Homo sapiens: one gene and its partners. The gene in region 3 interacts genetically with the main gene of each other region. Each region holds a gene or a part of one and is shown on either strand. Other genes may lie near its edges.

Region 1 (5,097 bases), on a different chromosome or scaffold from region 3:
CAGCCCACTGTCTGTTTCTGTACAGCTGGTAAACAAGGAATGGTTTTCACATTTTTAAATGGCAGAAAAAAAATAATTTGTGATACGTGAACATTAATAAAATTCAAATTTCAGTGTCCATGAAGAGTTATATTGGAAAAGAGAACCTACAACCATTGCCTCTCCCGCTGCGTAAGTTCGGCAAAGGCTCACGCTTTTGTCTTTTGTTGGATGAATGACTACCAACACCTAGGACAGTGCCTGCACAAATTAGGTGCCCTATAAATATTTGTTGAGTCACTAAATTTTAAAATTCTAGATTATGGGGACTGTGTAGGAAGGACCTCATTCTTTAGAGAACATGAATTACCCACTACTACAACTCGCTGTGTCCATCCCTAAGCCAGAAGAGCGGAGGTTAAGACCCCAAGCAAGCCCACACGTAATGACACAGGAATGGAAAGCTGATGCTCGGCCTGGTCTCCTGCTGAGCCTGGACACAGGCATAGGCACTGCTGCAATGGCAAGAGAAGCTCAAAAAGTTTTAAAACAAAATACATTATTTTATTTCAATTCCATGATTTTAAAATGCTTTTTATTTTTTTCTTTTTGCCCCTTTTACAGGGGAGACGTAAAGCTGTCCCAGTTATCAAAAAATTCAAATCTCCTTTTCTTCTGTGGACTGGCTGTCAATGAGCTTTCATCCAGGGTGTCTCCCATGTTCTGGGAACTACTTCCAGATGTTCCTGAAGCACTTCCTGGGTCAAAGGACTCTGCTGCTTCCAGGAGCTCCATATCACTTCCTTCTTTCTCAAAGGACTTCTGGAATAGGTCGTAGATCTTCTGCTGCTTTGGGTCCTTCATCAGAGAAAGAAAACAAAAGATAAAAGGAAGAGCCCAGGCTCCAACACTGACTCTCCTCCACTAGGGCTGATGAGAGAATATAAAGATGAGAGACCACACATTTCATGGTGTCAGGGAGCTACACGATGGCAAGTGTGCATCATCTCAGCAAACCATCACTAAAGCAGCCTCACTGTTTTAGTGTCTGACATCTTACCCTCTCTGTGCTCATTGAGTTAGGAAAAAGAAATGGTTGTGAGTGCAACAAAGAAGCTGCTCTCACGCTATAATTTACATTGGAAATGTTTTCTCCCTTTGAACTTTCCAAATCATTATTTCAATACTGAAATAGCACCCAAGATCTCACTTCCTCCAAAGCCTTTCTCTACTAAGGGTCAGTTAAGGTATAATTCAACTTCTAAATCTCTATTTTTAAATTTATTTTTATTTTTATAATTTTTTAAGAGATGGGATCTCACTAAATGTTGCCCAGGCTGGTCTCGAACTCCTGAGCTCAAATGATCTGCCCACCTCAGCTACCCAAAATGTTGGGATTACAGGTGTGAGCCACCATGTGCCCAGCCCCCCAACTTCCAAATCTCTGTGTTCAGCCATGGCTTATACCTAATTTTCAAAGTAGTTGAAAAAACATACACACATTTAACATATTCATAAGTAGATATGTGTACCTATTCTGATTACCTTAAATTACAAATAATCAAAATACCCACCAACTGCATCTATACATTGATGACAATGGTGTAGTGTTAAAACCATGCCCAGTGGATACAACCACAACACACGATCACTATCACCCCTCTGCCGATTTTTCCTACATCTAAATTTCCAACTTTGACCATTTTTCAATTTAGAGGTATATTTTCCATATCTCCACTGACATCCCACAGTTTCATAAAACTAAACTGGTTTAAAATCAAATGATCTTTTGGCTGGGCTCAGTGGCTCTCACCTGTAATCCCAGCACTTTAGGAGGCCGAGGCGGATGGATCGCCTGAGGTCAGGAGTTCGAGACCAGCCTGGCCAACGTGGTGAAACCCCATCTCTACTAAAAATACAAAAAATTAGCCAGACATGGTGGTGCGTGCCTGTAGTCCCAGCTATTTGGGAGGCTGAGGCACAAGAATCGCTTGAACCCACAAGGCAGAGGTTGCAGTGAGCCATCATCACGCCACTGCACTCCAGCCTGGGTGACAGAGTGAGACTCTGTCTCAAAAAAAAAATAAATACATAAAAATAAGGCTGCTGCAAGGGCTCACGCCTGTAATCCCAGCACTTTGGGAGGCCGAGGCGGGGGGATCATCTAAGCTCAGGAATTAGAGACCAGCCTGGGCAACATGGCAAAACCCCATCTCTATCAAAAATACAGAAAATTGGCCGGGTGTTGGCAGCATGCGCCTGTAGTTCCAGCTACTCGGGAGGCTGAGATGGGGGGAATCACTTGAGCCTGGGAGGCGGAGGTTGCAGTGAGCCAGCATAGTGCCACTGTACTCCAGCCTGGGTGACAGAGTGAGACCCTGTCTCTAAATAAATAAATAAATAAATAAATATAAAAAATCAAATGATCTCTCATCTCCTATATTCTCAAAGCAGCTTCTCTTCCCATAAGTCTAGTTTTTATAGTCTACCTGCATTCTCGTAGTCTCCCAGGTGGAAATCATCCAGGCAAACAGAGTCCTCGGCTTATGCAAGTTTGTTCCCCCCATTAGTTCCCTCCTCTCTCCTTCAGGCACCATCTTTACTTGGGCCACATCACTTGGTACTGCATGGATTTGCAACAGCTCAACTGCGCTTCCTGCCTCAGGCTTCTTCCCATTTCAAACAGCCTACAGATCTTTGCCAGCTGATTTTTACCCCCAGGCTCTCCTTTAAAGATTTTTTTGGTCATGTCTTTGGGCTCCGCTGTCCCTACCTCATCAAGTCTACAGTTGCTCCCCTGGCTTTTCAGGCCTTTATAGAATTAGGTCTCAACGTACCTGGCCACTGTTCCTCACTATTCCTTAACCAAATCCCTCCACATTGGTGAAGTAGAGTTCCTTGAAAATTGATCATGACAGCCTGTCATGTAAGAACTCCAGATTATTCAATTAACCTGCACCCGAAATCTCCTAGCCTTTCAGGATCCCAGCCTTGCAGAGAGGGAAATGATATGAAAGATCATCAAGGCTGACCCCCAAATAACCCACATGTCCTCCTCCAGGATGCCCTCATCAGCCTCTTTCTGAATGACTGCAATGTCAAGGAAACGCCACCCTGCAAGGCAGCCTATTCCAAGTAGAAAAAGCTGCTAATGTGCATTTGATTATGATGATGGCAACACTGTATGCTGACTCGGGGCATGCATAATTAATTGGAAGCGAGTTCCAAGATCAGATTAATATTTCATTTCCCCTCTCAGAAGGAAGGCTATCTCAGTGAGATATAACCTCTTCTGCTTTTGTCTCCTATATTGGAAGCAACATTTTCTTTTTCTAGTAGTTGATAAAATTTTCAGCCCCATCTTAATTAAAAAATAAATTGATATAGTTATTGATCAAAATATTGATAAAACTCATTTATATTACCTTGTACTTATATTTTAGGTAGAAATGCTTAACCAATTTAGAGTAAGAGAAAGGCAAGGAGGAATAAATGAGTTCAAGTGAGAATCCTTTAAAAATAGGCTTTCTTTTTTTTCTTTTTTGAGACAAGGTCTGTCTCTGTTGCCTAGGCTGAAATGCAGTGGTGTGATCTTGGCCCACTGCAACCTCTGCCTCCCAGGTTCAGGGAATCCTCCTGCCTCAGTCTCCTGAGTAGCTGGGAATACAGGCATGTGCCATCATGCCTGGCTAATTTTTGTATTTTTTGTAGAGATGGGGGTTTCACCATGTTGCCCAGGCTGGTCTCAAACTCCTGGGCTCAAGTCATCTGTCCGCCTCAGTGTGGGATTAGAGGCTTGAGCCACTATGCCTGCTCAGACTATTTCTTTTCAAAAGGCTTGTAATAACCTAGGCTCTGTTACCATTTACCATTCAGCTGAACTGGAGAGTTCTTTAAAAAGCTTAAAAATAAGGTTGTTTTAAAATTGGCTTATTAACTATATATGTCTGAAAGGATAATTTGCAGTCTGCATTTAAAAATATGATCTGAGTCTTATTTATCCCAATATTTAGCAAATAAATCCTTGCAAAGAAAGAATTTATTTGCTAAATAAATGTAAGTGAATGAGCAGATCCACAGAGTCTTAAGTCTTGGTGTCAACGATAAGATTTAACTCAACTTCTTATTTATTTAAACTTTTTTCTTTCTCTTTTTTTTTTTTTGAGGCAGGCTCTTGCTCTGTTGCCCAGTTTAGAGTACAGTGACCATCATGGCTAACTACAGCCTTGACCTCCTAGGCTCAAGTGATCCTCACCTTTTCCTCTGGAGTAGCTGGGACTACAGGTGTGCACCACCATGTGTGGCCTAACTCAATATTCTGATGGTGATTTCACAGGAAGGAGGAGGTGCTTCACTTTCCTGATAAGCTACCGTAAGGCCCCTTTCTGCATGAGGCTCAGACCTGGTTCAAACTCTCCTGGCAGAAACAATTCAACCATGAGCTGTGCTCGAGGAGGGCATACTCCTGGTTTTCACCTTCTGGCCAACAATCCAAGCTGGGGAAGGAAAACAAGCTTTTGGAAGGCTCTGGGTCTCTTGCTCACTCCACTGTGTTTCACTGAAATGGGGGAGGAAGAGTCTGTGGCAGCCACTGGGCTGCAGCACTGAAACCAGGCAGGCATGATGGGCCCAGGGCTGTCCTGTTCAGAGGCAACAGCCTTCCCCCTCAGCACCTTTGACAAGGCCTGCCTGGTCATGGAGGGATGCCTCTTATACTCCTTTACAACAAGGGCTGAGCTCAAAGGAGGAATGCTGGGCCAAGTCAGGAAGCCTTCTTCCTTGGGCTGGCTTCACATGCCCTGTGACTTTGTGCAAACCTACTATACTGCCATGTCTCAGTTTACCCCTCTATCAAGTGGGGAGACACTGAGAATAAATAAAATGACAGAAGGGAAAATATATTCTATGAAGCCAGTACCCTATTTTAAACACTCCCCATTCTGTGCTGGGGATGCATTCCTGTGGCAGCCCTATGTGTGGTGTTGCTGTGTACTTTTTGAAACAATTCAACATTTGCCATGGGGAGTTTTGTCAGTTTCTAATGGCCTGCTGGAAGAGGCAGCATTCAGAGCCTGTGCGGGAATGTCAGCAGCTGTAGGAGCTAATGCCATCATTTCC
Region 2 (7,576 bases), on a different chromosome or scaffold from region 3:
TTTCAGCTCTGTAAGAAAATAGAGATTTGTGGCTTTTTATTTTTTCATGCTAGTATCATATAGTATCACTCTAGCATAGTGGCTCAGCTCATGGGATTTAGAGTGGCCAACTCACAGCCCTTGGGCAAGCTAGTAAATACACTGAAGCCTCAGTTTCCTCATCTACAAAACAGAAATAACAGGACCTAACTCACAAGGGTCCTTCCAAGGATTACATTTAATTAGATGATCCATGGAAAGAGCTGAGATTCATGCCTGGCAGTAAGTATTCAATAAATATTAGCTATTATTGCTATTAAATGTGAGCCAACACATTCTAAAAGTCAACATACGCAGATTACTTCAGCCTCTATAAAAATGTCAGTAAAGATCAATAACCTAGCCAGCTCACAATCATTCACGTGACTTAGGTGAGAACCATGTAAGTTAACTTTCTCACAAGAAAGGGCTAAACTTTGTTTCATTACTTACATTACCTACTCAGCCCAGCCTGACAGCCAAAAGAACACATTCCATATTAAAGATCCCACCTTCCTCTAGCAAGGTCAAAAGGACTTCTTACATCCTCACCTGCACATCCTTTCTTTGCTCCTGTATCCCAAAGAAACATGTCTATACTGTGGCTTTCTAAACTGCAGGCCTCACCTCCTCCCTCTTTTAAAATCGTGATAGGTTGGTTAAACGTACTTAAGAAACACTCCAACCCCTGACAATTCTCTGCGCCCAGTCTTCCACAACCCCCAGCTCAGAAGTCACCTCCTCTGAGAAATTTCCCCACCCTCAGACAAAATTAACTCCCCTATACTTCAAAGCATTTTGGGTACACATATGCCCCAGTAGTTACCTTATAATTAACTAATTATGTCTCCCCCAATAGACTGAATTGAGAGCAAGGGAGTGTTATGGTTACAGGATCAGCTCTAGCACCAAGCACAGTGGTTGGCACATATCTGGTGCTCAAGAAATGCCATACTTTAAACCAGATTCTCTCCTGGCTGAGTACCATCTCCTGCTGGATGCCCCACTTCAAACTCTGAACATAAGGTTGCTCTCAGTAGAGCAGGCTAACATGATGGACTGCTGATTACAACATTAGAAAACCTACTCATCAACTTCTCCCATTGGAGAGGTTCCCGGAACCCAAACTCAATTGAGCAGGATTATGTACCATCAAAATCAGTGGGAATTCCCAGCACACTACAGAAGGTAACTTCTCCTTCAACAGGGTTGTTCGAAAGCCTGCAAGGATGAGCTTTTTATTGGAGGACTCTTCCCTGGGTAACTGAAGTGGAAATACAGTAAGAATAAATGCCTTGATTTGGCTGAAAAGGGTTCAAAAACATAAAGAATTGGGAAAAAAAAAAAAAGCCAGTTCTTGATTCCTGAAAAACAGTGGCTCGTGAAAAAGAATGAACAGGAAGCAGGGGTGGGTACTGGACACTCTTTGCTTCAATAAATAAAATCTTTTTTTCCTCCTTACAACCCAAACGAAAAGGCCAACACACCAGGTCCACAAGAGATGCTCAACAATCTTTCCTTCCAACAAGTACACTAAACTGCGTTTCCAGAAAAACACTGCATTGGGAACCTCGACCACAATGAAAAGTTCCAGTGACTAACATAATTTTTTAAAAATCCAACATTTACATTGGGTGACCCACAGAGAACTTGCAAACTTTCTTTAGGGAGGTACTGCTACCTTTGCAAAGAACGTAACTTGGGAAAAACAACCTGGAAATATAAAGAACTCCACAAAGCGTGGCTTTAGTTTTAGAGCCATAATTCCTATCATAAACAGCCTATCAAAAAAAAAATTAACAGTTGCTTAAGGAAATCTTTCATTCTGGAAGCAGAAAAGGAAACAAACATGAAGCATAAAGGGAATAACCCCCAAAATAAAGTTTAAAAAATAATAATTCAGTCCCCCAGCCTTCCCTCTCTGGTGAAGTATGTGATTTATACGGCTTTGCTCTGCAGAAAGCTCATTCTGGGCAGCTCAAGGAAAGAGCCGAGGGAGGGAGAGAAAGAGACACAGGCACAGAAAGGAGAGGAGAGAGAAAAAGAAAATGGCGCAGAGACTAAGTCCCGACCGTCGACAAGGCGACTTTCCCGGGAGGAATCCCGGCCCGGAAAGACCGCCCGAGGCCCGGTGGCGGACGACACGGGGTCTCCGTTGTCCCCTCTTGGGAGGGCCGGGATCTGGAGGAGCTGGGGTCCCCGGAAAGGGGGTCAAGAGGCGGCCCGATGGGAACAATGGGGCCGGTGAGCGAGGAGCCGGGACTTAGTCTCTGGGACGCCATGTCTGTCCTCTGCCCGGCACCGGCAGGGCGCGGGGGAGGCGGCCGGCGGCTGGGGGGCCCCGGAGTCGGCGCAGGGGGCACACTCACCATTCAATCGGAAATCCGCTTCGATCTGGAAAAAGAAAAGGAGAGAATATCAAACAACAGCCACTTTAACCCCTCCGGCGGCGAGCGCGCGCGGCCGGGGTCTGGCTCACCCTGCGCCCCCGGGGAGGACGGGGACCCGGGGGTGGCCACAGAGGGCAGCCATCCCTGCCTCGAACTGTAACTTCGCGGCCCTCGCTCGCGGCCTAGCGAGCCGATCTACTCCGGCAGGCGGCCCCTCACCGGGGGCTCCGGCCTGTCAAAGCTGCCGGGCCGGGGCTGGGGTCGGGGCCTGCGCCGGGGGTCGCGGGACGGCCAGGCCGGGGTCCGGGGCCGCCAGGGTCAGGCCGGGCCGTACCTGGGAATCGTTGTGGAGGTGGTCCCCACTCATGTCGGCCCGGAGGGACGAGCGCGGCGGCAGGCGAGGCGGCGTGGGGGAGACGCAGACGGCGAACCGGCCTGTGCGGGCGGACGGGGACTCCGGAGGCTCGAGGAGGCGCAGGTAAGCGGCGGTGACTGTGGGCCCGAGACTCCAGAAACGGCTGAGGCTGCTACCACGGCGGCGACGCTGCCTGACTGCCGGGCGGGCGGCGAGAACAGACCCCAGCAGTTGTGTAACAGCCTAAGTTCGCATTTGGGCTCACTGCGCCTGCGCGGCCGCTTTTAAACAACACGTCGGCGACGTCAGCGCTCGCGGAAAGAGGCAGAGGGTTGCGGCCCGCCCCCTCGCTGTTCGCCAGACGGACCTGTCTTTGCATCGCAAGCCCCGCCTCCGGACCGTGCGCGCTCCGCTGTGATTTGCATAAGGAGCCGACTCCTCCCACGGCGTCCCACCCCAAGCAGCCTCCCCTTCCTCTCCAGACGCTTTTTCTCGGAACCCCAGCCCCTCTGCTAGGCAGTGCGCAGGCGCCACCCGGGCACCGCCTCCGGACCAGGGCTGGCCGCGCAGCCACGTGGTGGGCCTTTAAAGGCCGCGGCGGGACCCAGCAATCTTGGGCAGAGCTGGTATCCGGCGTCCGCATCTCCTTGGAGCGGCGAGTACCTTGGCAGCTGGGACCCCAGAGGTCTCCCCAGCGCCTCCTTTCTTGCTAAGCCGACCCTGAGGCCGCCTGGTGGGAGGAGTCCCCTCCCCAGCCTTTGTCCAGGCCCTCCAACTTCTGGATTATTTCACGCCCACTTTTTAAAAATTATTTTAATTTTTCAACCAACCAAGGGTCCGGTTTAACCCCAGTTTTCCGCCGAGTACATGTAGCCCTGGGTCACCAAGGGTCTGATTTCTTTGGTTCATTCTACAAATACTTATTGAGCATCCGCTATGAGCCCAGGAATTGTGCTGAGGGAAGGGGGAATGCAAGAGACCAAAGGGAACTGAACCTGTCTCTATCCGCCCCTGTATCCCTGGCATGCTGGGAGGACGGGGCAAATGGGGAATAGAACTACCGTTTATAGAGCATCTATTCTGTGCCCAGCTCTGAATTCTCACAATAGCTCTGTGAGGTCGCCTGTATTACAAAAGTCAAACTGTCCTAAAGACAAGGGACCAACAGCCAGCTACCTTGCATCTATAGTTGGATACCTCTCAAGCTTCTCTGGGAATGAACTGAACTCCACTCAGCTAGAAAAAGCCCCATCCTGACACCTTCCTTTCCCTCATTTCCCACTAGTCCCGCTGATTGCATCTCTTTGCTTCATCTACTTCTCTCTGCTGCCCATAAGCCTTTGAAGTCTGCGTTCTCCTGCTTGGATTAATACAATGTGCTGGCTGGGGGTGGTGTCTCACACTTGTAATCTTAGCACTTTGGGAGGCCGAGGCTGGCAGATCACTTGAACCCAGGAGTTCAAGACCAGCCTGGGCAACATGGCAGAACCCTGACTCTACAAAAAAATACAAAAACTGGCGGGGTGTGGTGGCATGTGCCTGTAGTCCCGGCTACTCGGGAGGCTGAGGTGGGAGGATCACCTGAGCCCGAGGAGGAGGTCGAGGCTGCACTGCACTCCAGCCTGGGCAACAGAGTGAGACCTGGTTTAAAAAAAACAAAAAACAAACCAACAAAAAACACCGCACTCCAAAACACTACACTTCTAACAGGGATTGCTGCTTCCATTCTTGGCCCTCTCGTAAACTGCATTCCAACAATTGCCAAAGTGATCTTCTCAATATGCTAATCTAACCATTACTCCTTTGTGGATATTGCCACATCTATTACCACTTTCACTATTATTATTTCATATTTTAATTGATCTCCTTTTTATTTACCTTCATCCTAAGTGTTATCTGTGAAATAATATCTATGAAATCATTTGGAAGTAAATATGAAAACTGTTCATCCAGTGGACCATCAGTATCTTTATCACATCTAATGTTTACCATCACATGTTTACCATTAGATGTGTTTACCACATCTTGTGAATGCTTCAAGATCAACCTAAATATCACTTTTTCAAAGTGACTCTCCGGCGCACTACTGACCCTGCTTCCACTGGCTGACCAAGGGTGCCTTATAGGCCAGGCGCGGTGGCTAACGCCTGTAATCACAGCACTTTGGGAGGTCAATGTGGATCAATCACTTGAGGTCAGGAGTTCAACAACAGCCTGGCCAACATGGTGAAACCCTGTCTCTACTAAAAATACAAAAATTAGCAGAGTGTGGTGGTTCACACCTGTAATCCCAGCTACTCGGGAGGCTGAGGCAGGAGAATCGCTTGAACCTGGGAGGCAGAGGTTGCAGTGAGCCGAGACCGCACCACTGTACCCCAGCCTGGGCAACAGAGCGAGTGAGTCTCAAAAAATAAATAAACAAATAAAAATAAAAGGTGCCTTATAGTATCTATCTCCTTTGTAACACTTATGACACTTGTTATTAAGTTACAAATGTAGTAATTGGTTTCCTGTCTATTTCCCCTATAGCAAGCAAGGTCTGTGAGAGGGGGGAATCTTGTCCATCTTGCCTACCACTGAATTCCCAGCACCCAGCAACAGGCCCTCCTACAGAAGAGGTGCTCAAGAAATGGGCAAATCAAAGCAGGTTACCCTGCTTTGGTTAGGAGCACACATTTGGAAGTCAAATCAACTTAGGTTTGAATTCTGCTCTGCTGTTTGTTACCTGTGTGATATCAGGCAAGTTGTTTAACTTCTCTGAGTCCCTGTTTCCTCATCCACTCCATGGTGATCATTGTGGGTATGTAATGACTATCAAAAAATAATGGTTTGAGGGCAGGCACCTAGTAAGTGCTGAGTCTTGGATTCATACTCAGGTCGGCCTGACTCCAAAGCTATACTCTTTCTCTGAAGCAAGCTGCCAGAGCCAGTTTTGCCTTGCTGTTGGTGTCTCTTCTCATACTCTTCCCATCTCAGGATCAATCCCTGGCCAGAAGATGAGGCATCTGCTTGCTGCAGTGAGTCCAAGATAATTTGAGGACGGCCTTCAGGAATAACAATGCATCCACACTACTCCACTCTCCCAACCCCCCGTTTCCCAGGGAGAATCTGCATTTGCTTTTTTTTCTTTTTTTTTTTTTTTTTGAGATGGAGTCTCTGTCACCCAGGCTGGAGTGCAGTGGTGCCATCTGGGCTTACTGCAACCTCCGCCTCCTGGGTTCAAGCAATTATCCTGCCTCAGCCTCCCGGGTAGCTGGGATTACAGCCACGTACCACCACACCCAGCTAATTTTTGCAATTTTAGTAGAGACAAGGTTTCACTATGTTGGTCAGGCTGGTCTCAAACTCCTGACCTCGTGATCTGCCCACCTTTGCCTCCCAAAGTGCTGGGATTACAGGCATGAGCCACTGTACCCAGCCTGCATTTGCTTTCCAGGCCCCTCCAAAGAAGACTAGGTAGGCATGAAAACAGCACAGACTTCACAATGGCAGACCGAGGACATCCCCGTGCACAGACATGGAAATATCCGGGCAGTCTTGTCACAGGCTGAACTTCTCTGCCAGCATGTGTGGCTGGCAGTGCTCAGAGGTTGACTGACTTACTCTGTCTTACAGAGACCACTCCTGACTCCTAACACTTCAAACACATGTCCCCACCATATGGTACTTGAGGAGATTATTGATAGTGCATGGACAAGCATTTTAATTCTAATAGATATGTATTTCGATGTGTATGAGAAAAAATAACCATTGTTTTAAGGATATAACTGGGATGAGGCTTTTTAAAAAAGTGATTGATTTACATAAAAACATATAGGAATAGTGCACAGAGCGGACATATAAGACAAACTCCAGGAAGGCTATAGGCAAATAAATGAGGTTTGGGAAACACTGCTTTAAATCAAGACTGTTCACTCATGGACCATCCCAACCCTTATAAAAATAACTAGCAGGTGAAAACTGGTAGTGTAGGTCTGTCTCCAAAGTATGCATTGGGAACAGTGGACGGTTTATAGATAATCCACTAAAAGAAGAGCTCCACATACAAATACATACATTATTATATTTACAGTTAAACAGGTTTTTTCCCAGGTGCCTTCTCAGGGTCTTCCATATGTAAATACTTACGTGACTCTTGAAAAGAGGGACATGGTGTGCAGCATCTCCAAAATGTAGGCAAACCCGGCCAGGAGCGGTGGCTCATGCCTGTAGTGCCAGCACTTTGGGAGGCCGAGGGCGGGGGTGGATCACCTGAGGTCAGGAGTTCGAGACCAGCCTGGTCAACATGGTGAAAACTCGTCTCTACTAAAATTACAAAAATTAGGCCGGGCGCAGTGGCTCACGCCTGTAATCTTAGCACTTCGGGAGGCCAAGGCAGGCAGATCACCTGAGGTCAGGACTTTGAGACCTGCCTGGCCAACATGGTGAAACCCTGTCTCTACTAAAAATAGAAAAATTAGCTGAGCATGGTTGGCACACACCTGTAATCCCAGCTACTTGGGAGACTGAGGCAGGAGAACTGCTTGAATCCTGGAGGCAGAGGTTACAGTGAGCCAAGATGGCGCCACTGCACTCCAGCCTGGGTGACAGAGCGAGACTCCATCTTGGAAAAAAAAATGTAGGTAAATCCAAAAACACTTTTTTCCAGACTACCTCTTGAGACTTGGGCTTTTTGGGGGTGGTAGAGAGGGTGCACCATTCCTGGAGGTACTGCAATCCAGGCCAATGTGTAGAGTGGACAGAGCAAGCTCCTATTCCATCTCCTTGCTCCAAAAATCTATTTATTATATTATCCTCAGATAGAGGATGTATC
Region 3 (7,031 bases):
TCAAAAATCACAACAAAACTAAAACATGAAACTTACATCAAGTTGAACAAATTGCAAAAACTCTCCAACCAGCTCCTTAGACACGGCTTGTACAAACGTCTCACGTTTTTCCATGACAGATGGCACTGTTCAAATGGCATTTATTTTGTAACCCTAATGGAAAACACAATCATACTGAAACACTTGCAAATATATCTTTTCCTGTAAGATTTAATTTGATATTAACATCCAAGAACTGCAAGAAAATTCCTCAACCACGTATGGCAGACAGTTTCTAAAAACATTCTGACATAAAACACGCTATAATATCTGAAAAACAATTTACTTATTTCCTTTACTGGGGATGTGAATAACATGATATTAATGATATTTTATCAACAATTGTTAATAAAATTACCAACTAAGGAGGGAGAAATCCAAATAGCCTTAGGAAGCTCACCACCATCTCTCCCTTTTTAGTACCTTAGCAAGATGCTGGCTCGGCAGAGCTGAGTTGATTCAACAAAAGAACAATCTGATCCCAGCTGCAGATTCTGAAGATGCTCCCTTTCTAAAGGCCATTCCTCCATCAAAAAAATCCCACTGTTAGTGTCATCTTGTTATTCAAAGTGAGATGGAAAACAGTGGCCCCGGGGGTCACCTGGGATCTTGTTAGACTATGCATTAGGCATGCTCAACCACAGCACCCTCCTCCCACCCCTTCGGGATAATGAGAGCTCAGGGGACTTTGTATACCCTCCATCCTGCCTGTGTTTTTCCAGGAAATTCTATTTCGCATTCACAATACCTGGTGCTACTGGTGCCCTACTGAAAAAACATCAACCTAAAGATGAGGTAATAGCAAATGATGGAACACATTTGCAGTAGGAGCCCCCTCACTTTAAAAATAAATGAAAACCACCTGCACCATTATAAATAGAGCAATATGGAAAATTATTGCCAATAATTATGGGGACAGAGAGTCATCTTAAACATATAATACTAGATTTTAATGTCCAAATTGAACAAAGCAAAAATAACCTCAGTTTAATGACTCCCGAAATAAGTTAACAGTGAAGTCTGGTCATCTCATTCCTCAACTCAAATGGCTGAACTATGAACTACGGTCATGGACCACATAACATTTCAGTCAACAACAGACCACATGTATGACCGTGGTCCCATAAGATTATAATGCCATATTTTTACTGTGCTTTTTCTATGCTTAGATATGTTTAGCGATGCAAATACTTGCCATTGTATTACAGTTGCCTACAGTATTCAGTACAGTAACATTCTAGGAGCAGTAGGCTACACCATACAGCCTATGTGTGTAGGCTACACCTCTAGGTGTAGGCAAGTCCACTCTGTGATGTTCATGCAATGATGAAATTGCCTAACGACAACGTGTCTCCCTCTTTAAATCAAGCATGACTGGCACATTTTTCACTGACAAAGAAAATGGGGAGGGAAGGGAGAGTGGCCAGTAACAAGCATAATGAATAGTGGCTAGGACAAATTCATGATTTTAGAAAAATAATCCAATAAGGTGCAGCAAACACATGGAATCATACATCTTCGCCCGGCAAGTCTGTGAACACTCTCCACTTTTTCATAGTTCTGGTCACTTTTCTTGTTTGCTCTATTTCCAAGTGTACCTCTTTGGCATGTTAGTCCAACTTACAGTAATACACTTCCTCTAGACTACCAAACTTATTCCTATATTTCCCATTTTCCCTCTTATATTAGTGACTGTAATTTTTTAATGGTTAATTTTTCAATCTATCTCCCAAAGTGGCAATATTCCATGTTTCTTGTACCATATGTGCATAAGACCTCAGCCCTGCAGCCAGAATGCTACTTTCAAGGTAAGGAGTCATCTCACCATCCAGTTATCAGTCCGAAGAGCAGGTTACTCTTCGCACAGGAGGTCTGGTACTAAATCAAGATGAGCATTAAAAAGAAGAAATCCCTGTTACCTTCTCACCACCTGTGACTTCCCACTCCGTCCCCAAACTCCTTCCTCATGGACACAACAAGAGGCACCAAACCAGCAACAAGAGTTCAGGAGACTGATGTCTCTGAGGACAATGCCCACGTCCACAGCTGGGGAGATACTCTCTGAGGGCAGTGCCTACACCCAGGGCTCAGGGGGACTCTCTCTAAGGGCAGTACCGACACCCAGGACTGAGGGGACTCTCTCTGAGGGCAGTTCCCATGCCCAGGACAGAGGGGGTCGCTCTCTGAGGGCAGTGCCCATGCCCAGGACTGAGGGGACGCTCTCTGAGGGCAGTGCCCATGCTCAGGACTGAGGGGGTCGCTCTCTGAGGGTAGTGCCCATGCCCAGGACTGAGGGGACGCTCTCTGAGGGCAGTGCCCATGCCCAGGACTGAGGGGGTCGCTCTCTGAGGGCAGTGCCCATGCTCAGGACTGAGGGGGTCGCTCTCTGAGGGTAGTGCCCATGCCCAGGACTGAGGGGACGCTCTCTGAGGGCAGTGCCCATGCTCAGGACTGAGGGGGTCGCTCTCTGAGGGTAGTGCCCATGCCCAGGACTGAGGGGACACTCTCTGAGGGCAGTTCCCATGCCCAGGACAGAGGAGGTCGCTCTCTGAGGGCAGTGCCCATGCCCAGGACTGAGGGGACACTCTCTGAGGACGGTGCCCATGCTCAGGGCTGGGGGGTCGCTCTCTGAGGGCAGTGCCCGCGCCCGGGGCTGGGATTTTCCTCCGACACGGACAAGAAGGACGGGCGTCGCTGAGCTGGGTAGGGGGGATGGCCCGGGGTCGCCAGTTCCGTCCAGTTCCGTCAGAGGCAGCACTGCCCGCACGCAGGTCGGCCGCCTCCTTAGGGGAGGGGAGGCTGGGACCCCGACCAGCCGAGGAGGGGCTTCCCGCCCGATCCCTGCTACTTCCCAGCCCCTGCTCTGAACCCAATCCCGGCTCGGCACCGCAGCTCTTACCTGGGCTCGGGGACCCGCCGTTTCCCGCGCTCGGACCAGATTCAAACGCACCCGCCGGCGCCCCAGACGGGCCCCGCCCTCCCGGTCGTCATCAGGCGCCGCTCTCGCGAGAGCTGGGGCGCCGCGAGCCTCGGGCCTCGCCCACACGCCCGGCCCGCCCCGCCTCCAGATCATGCCCCGCCCACATGCCCGCCAGTCTTCTTCCTGTCTATGCCCCGCCTCTTAGGGCGCGGCCTCGAGCAGCTAAGCCCAGTGCCCTACCGGGCACTACGGAACGCGCACGCGGGGCGCCACAGCTGGGGAACCCATGCCCGGTCCGCGCGCCGACGTCCACTGCGCGCTCGTGCGCGTCCTGGGGCCTCCGCGGAGGGAGTGCGCGGTCCAGGAGAGGGCGGGGCGCTGCGAGCGGGCGGTGTTGTGGGAAGGAGGAAGGAGAGGAAGAGAGAGAGGGGGAGAGAAAGGAAAGGCTTGGGGCGGGGAGAGGCCACAGGGCCGTGTCTGGATCCCCGGGAGGACCCCACCCCGACCTGGCCGGCCCCCGTGACCGCCCTCCCTGCCGAGGGGGCACCTGTCCGGGTGGTCCGCAGCCTGCACACGGTAGGTGCACCCTGGGCAGGTGCTTCCCCCGCAGGAGCCCCTCCGGCCAGGTGCGGCCCCTAACAGGTGCTTCTCCTGCAGTTGCTCCTCCAGCAGGTGAGGCCCCCGGCAGGTCAGCTGCCCATAGGGTGGAGAGGGAGAGGCCTTAGCGGGGACCCTCGGAGGCACCCGTGTGAAGGAGGAGTAGCAATGTCATTCAATTCTTTGGACTTAAATGCCAAAATCACATACTGATGTATCAATCTCTTTTAATTTGTGTCAGCGAATAACTTGATTGGGCGTTCCCAATTTTTGTTGAAAGCAAATTCTTAGAAAACGGTGCTCTTTACCACCGAGCTCTGCATCCCTTCGTGAGGACTTGGCCTTCCCTGGAGCTATATTCTTTCATGCTTGAGATGTCTAGAGTGGTATCTGTTTTCCTGGCTTAACTCAAGCCAGAGGTCTTGGCGAGATTGAAGTCGTTGCACTGTGGGAGCACAGCACCAACCAATAGGAACATCATGGGAGCCACAAGTGCACTTGTAAATTTCTAGTGACCACATTAGAAAAATGAAGATAAATAGGTGACATTAATTTTTAAATATGTTTTATTTAGCCTAGTATATCAAAAATATTTATGTTACTTGTTGGAATATCGTTTCAACAAGCAATATAAAATTATAGCAGGGAGAAGACTGGTTTACTAGGAAGCTTGCAACAGTGAAGCAAGGCAGGCTGCAGAGGGGAGGGAGAAGACCCACTCAGAGGATGCTGAGTCTGGGACCCTTGTCAACAGGTGGCCGATATCTAACATTGCCTATTTCATCCTGGGGCTCCAGCCACCTCTGACCTCCTCCTCCCTCCATACACAGATCCTTCCCTGCCATTTCTTGAATTTTGGTGCCCTCATCTTCTCACTGCTTTCTTCTTAGCAATTTCCTTCATATCCAAGGTGCAAACTGCCACCTTCAAGCAGTGACCTCTGCATCTGGATTTGCAAGACACGGTTATTTCTGAACTCCAGAATTTTCAACAGCTCACTGCCTACTCCCACGCTGGTGCTGACATGCATCCAAAACAGATATCGACTTCCCCTCCCACCCCTGAATCCTGCCCCTTTCCTTATGCTGGTCCCTCCTCCAATCAGCCATCTGTTCCTGGGGTTTCCACTTCCTGAGTAGGAATAATGTAACAAGTTACGCATGTGAGCTCTGAAGCTGTACCACCTGGGCTAACCTGGTTCTGTGCTCACTAGCTGGTGACCTTTGACAAGCCATGGACGACTGAGCCTCAGTTTCCTCATCTATCAAATGGGACCTACTTAAGTACTGAGCCTCCTCTAGGGGGTTGTTATGAGGCCTAAATGTCTGTATAATGCAGAGCTCAGCCTCCTCTAGGGGGTTGTTATGAGGCCTAAATGTCTATGTAGTGCAGTGCTCAGAGGCACGTGGAAGCAGGGCAGCAGGAGCGCCCAGTGCACCCCCAATGCACCTGCCCATGCAGCCACTAATGTCATAGGATCCTTTGGGTATCGCTTCACCAGCTAGAAACCTCCGTGGCCAGCGGTGCCTCTGCTAGAGTTTTGCTCGAGCCCACTCAGCCCAGCAGGTTGCACTCGGCTTGCACTACCAACCCAGATCCCACGCCTGCCAAGGGTGAGCCAGGTGCAGAGCGGCAAGGGGTATGTGAGCAAGCGAGCATGGGGTCCAACCACTGCGCACACCCAGCCATGCAGCTGCTGTGGTGGAGCAGGCAGCTCTAGGTGCCTGCACAGCTGCCGGCTCCATGCAAGGCTGTGGCTGGACCAGAGGTACCACAAGTGGCTTCCACTGCAGGCATCAGCATCTGGACAAGGGGAACATGGTGGCACCCGAAAGCTCACAGATGCCAGGAGCCACAGAGCCCCAAAGGGGGGTTACACTGTGTCACAGCCCTGGCTCGGGGAGCCCCGAGGTCTGGGCTCCCAGAAGGGCCACAGCTCTTCTGTCCTTCTCATCACCCACAGCGTGGCTAGCAGGGGGTCGTGTTTCCGGGGCGGCATGTTTCACCTCATTTGTGTTACAGGTCTTTTGGTCCTGCCGCCCCACACCGGTCCACGGCTCCTTGGCTGTCCCGGCCCCACCGCTGCTTCCCACTGCATGGGGTGGCCACTGGGCGCCAGCAGAGGGTGGGAGGGCTATAGCATTATAGCTCTGGCTTGGGGAATCCCAAGGCCTGGGCCTCTACAAGGGTCACCACTCTTCACTCCCTCAGTCTGGGAGCGTGTCACCACCCGCAGCTCAGCGACCCGGCCAGGAACCCGTTACAGCCACTTTGGCTCCCACCTGCAACTTGGCAAGCTGGCCAGGAAAGTATTACAGCTCGTTTTGCTCTCACCATTCAGCAGGTTCCAAGTTCTTGTCCCATGTCCAGGAAGAATGAGGTTTGGCAGACATCTGGAGGGTGAGCAAGGCAGAGAACAGCTGACCAAATAGCTCTCAGTGGAGAGGAGACTCGAAGTGGGTAGCTCCTATCCACAGGCACGTATGGGCTCAGAATGGAGGAAGTACATGTTGATTGGTCCATAGACAGGAGGAAGTGTGTGCTGATTGGCCCATGGGCAGGCCTGGAAAAAGCACTACTTGATTGGCTGAAAGGCATCAAGTAAGTTCTCTTTCTGGATCTCGGACTTCACCAGGAACTGGCATCCTGGCCCAGGAACTTCAGGCTGTCCCTGGCTTGAAAGTGGGGTTTCACCAGGGACCTGCCCCTTCCCACCCAGGAACCTGTCTGCCTCCCGCTGCCATCACCGTTCACTGGGAATGTGACCTTCCCCGCAAATAGATGACACTCCTCCAGAACTCAGCTCAAGCTTTACCTTCTATAGGGGTTTATTTCCTGAACCCCATAACCCTCACTGTAATGCAATCTCTTAGCCCCCTACCACAGGCCTCATCATCTCCTCCATGTCAAGCACTGTGTCATCCTTAGTCCTATATCCGTGGCGTAAGGCCTGGCACATTTTAGATGCTTGAAGAAAATATTTTCTGAATAAATGAATGAATGAGGCATGAGATCATCTGTGTTCTTAAAATCTTACAATGTGGTAAATTAGAAAAGGTTTATAGAATTAAAGGTGGACCACATGGCAAGGCAATATAAAACTAAGTTTCAAAGGGTATAAAACTTGGCAAAAATATCTTTGATAAAAATATAATATCTTTTTTTTTTTTTTGAGACATAGTCTCGCTCTGTTGCCCAGGCTGGAGTACAGTGGTGCTATCTCGGCTCACTGCAAGCTCTGCCTCCCAGGTTCACGCCATTCTCCTGCCTCAGCCTCCCGAGTATATGGGACTACAGGTGCCCGCCACCACGCCTGGCTAATTATTATTATTATTATTATTATTATTATTATTATTATTATTTGTATTTTGTTTAGTAGAGATGGGGTTTCACCGTGTTAGCCAGGATGGTCTCGATCTCCTGACCTCGTGATCCGCCCGCCTCACCCTCCCAAAGTACTGGGATTACAGGCGTG

The links. Genes that interact genetically often act in the same process or in processes that back each other up.
Region 1: of NCAPG2 (region 3) and SMARCAL1, changing one suppresses a phenotype caused by changing the other (phenotypic suppression), as found in Homo sapiens cells (one study listed by BioGRID).
Region 2: of NCAPG2 (region 3) and TOP1, changing one suppresses a phenotype caused by changing the other (phenotypic suppression), as found in Homo sapiens cells (one study listed by BioGRID).

Annotation. Positions count from the first base shown.
Region 1 is NC_000002.12:216,478,478-216,483,574, reverse strand, and holds the end of SMARCAL1 (SWI/SNF-related matrix-associated actin-dependent regulator of chromatin subfamily A-like protein 1), read right to left. Parts: intron 838-5,097; coding exon 598-837; 3' UTR 522-597; downstream 1-521. UniProt on the Homo sapiens protein: ATP-dependent annealing helicase that binds selectively to fork DNA relative to ssDNA or dsDNA and catalyzes the rewinding of the stably unwound DNA. Rewinds single-stranded DNA bubbles that are stably bound by replication protein A (RPA).
Region 2 is NC_000020.11:41,024,267-41,031,842, reverse strand, and holds the start of TOP1 (DNA topoisomerase 1), read right to left. Parts: upstream 3,022-7,576; 5' UTR 2,776-3,021; coding exon 2,743-2,775; intron 2,413-2,742; coding exon 2,388-2,412; intron 1-2,387. UniProt on the Homo sapiens protein: Releases the supercoiling and torsional tension of DNA introduced during the DNA replication and transcription by transiently cleaving and rejoining one strand of the DNA duplex.
Region 3 is NC_000007.14:158,701,786-158,708,816, forward strand, and holds the start of NCAPG2 (condensin-2 complex subunit G2), read right to left. Parts: upstream 3,020-7,031; 5' UTR 2,939-3,019; intron 1,918-2,938; exon of another isoform or gene 463-1,917; intron 154-462; 5' UTR 115-153; coding exon 37-114; intron 1-36. UniProt on the Homo sapiens protein: Regulatory subunit of the condensin-2 complex, a complex which establishes mitotic chromosome architecture and is involved in physical rigidity of the chromatid axis.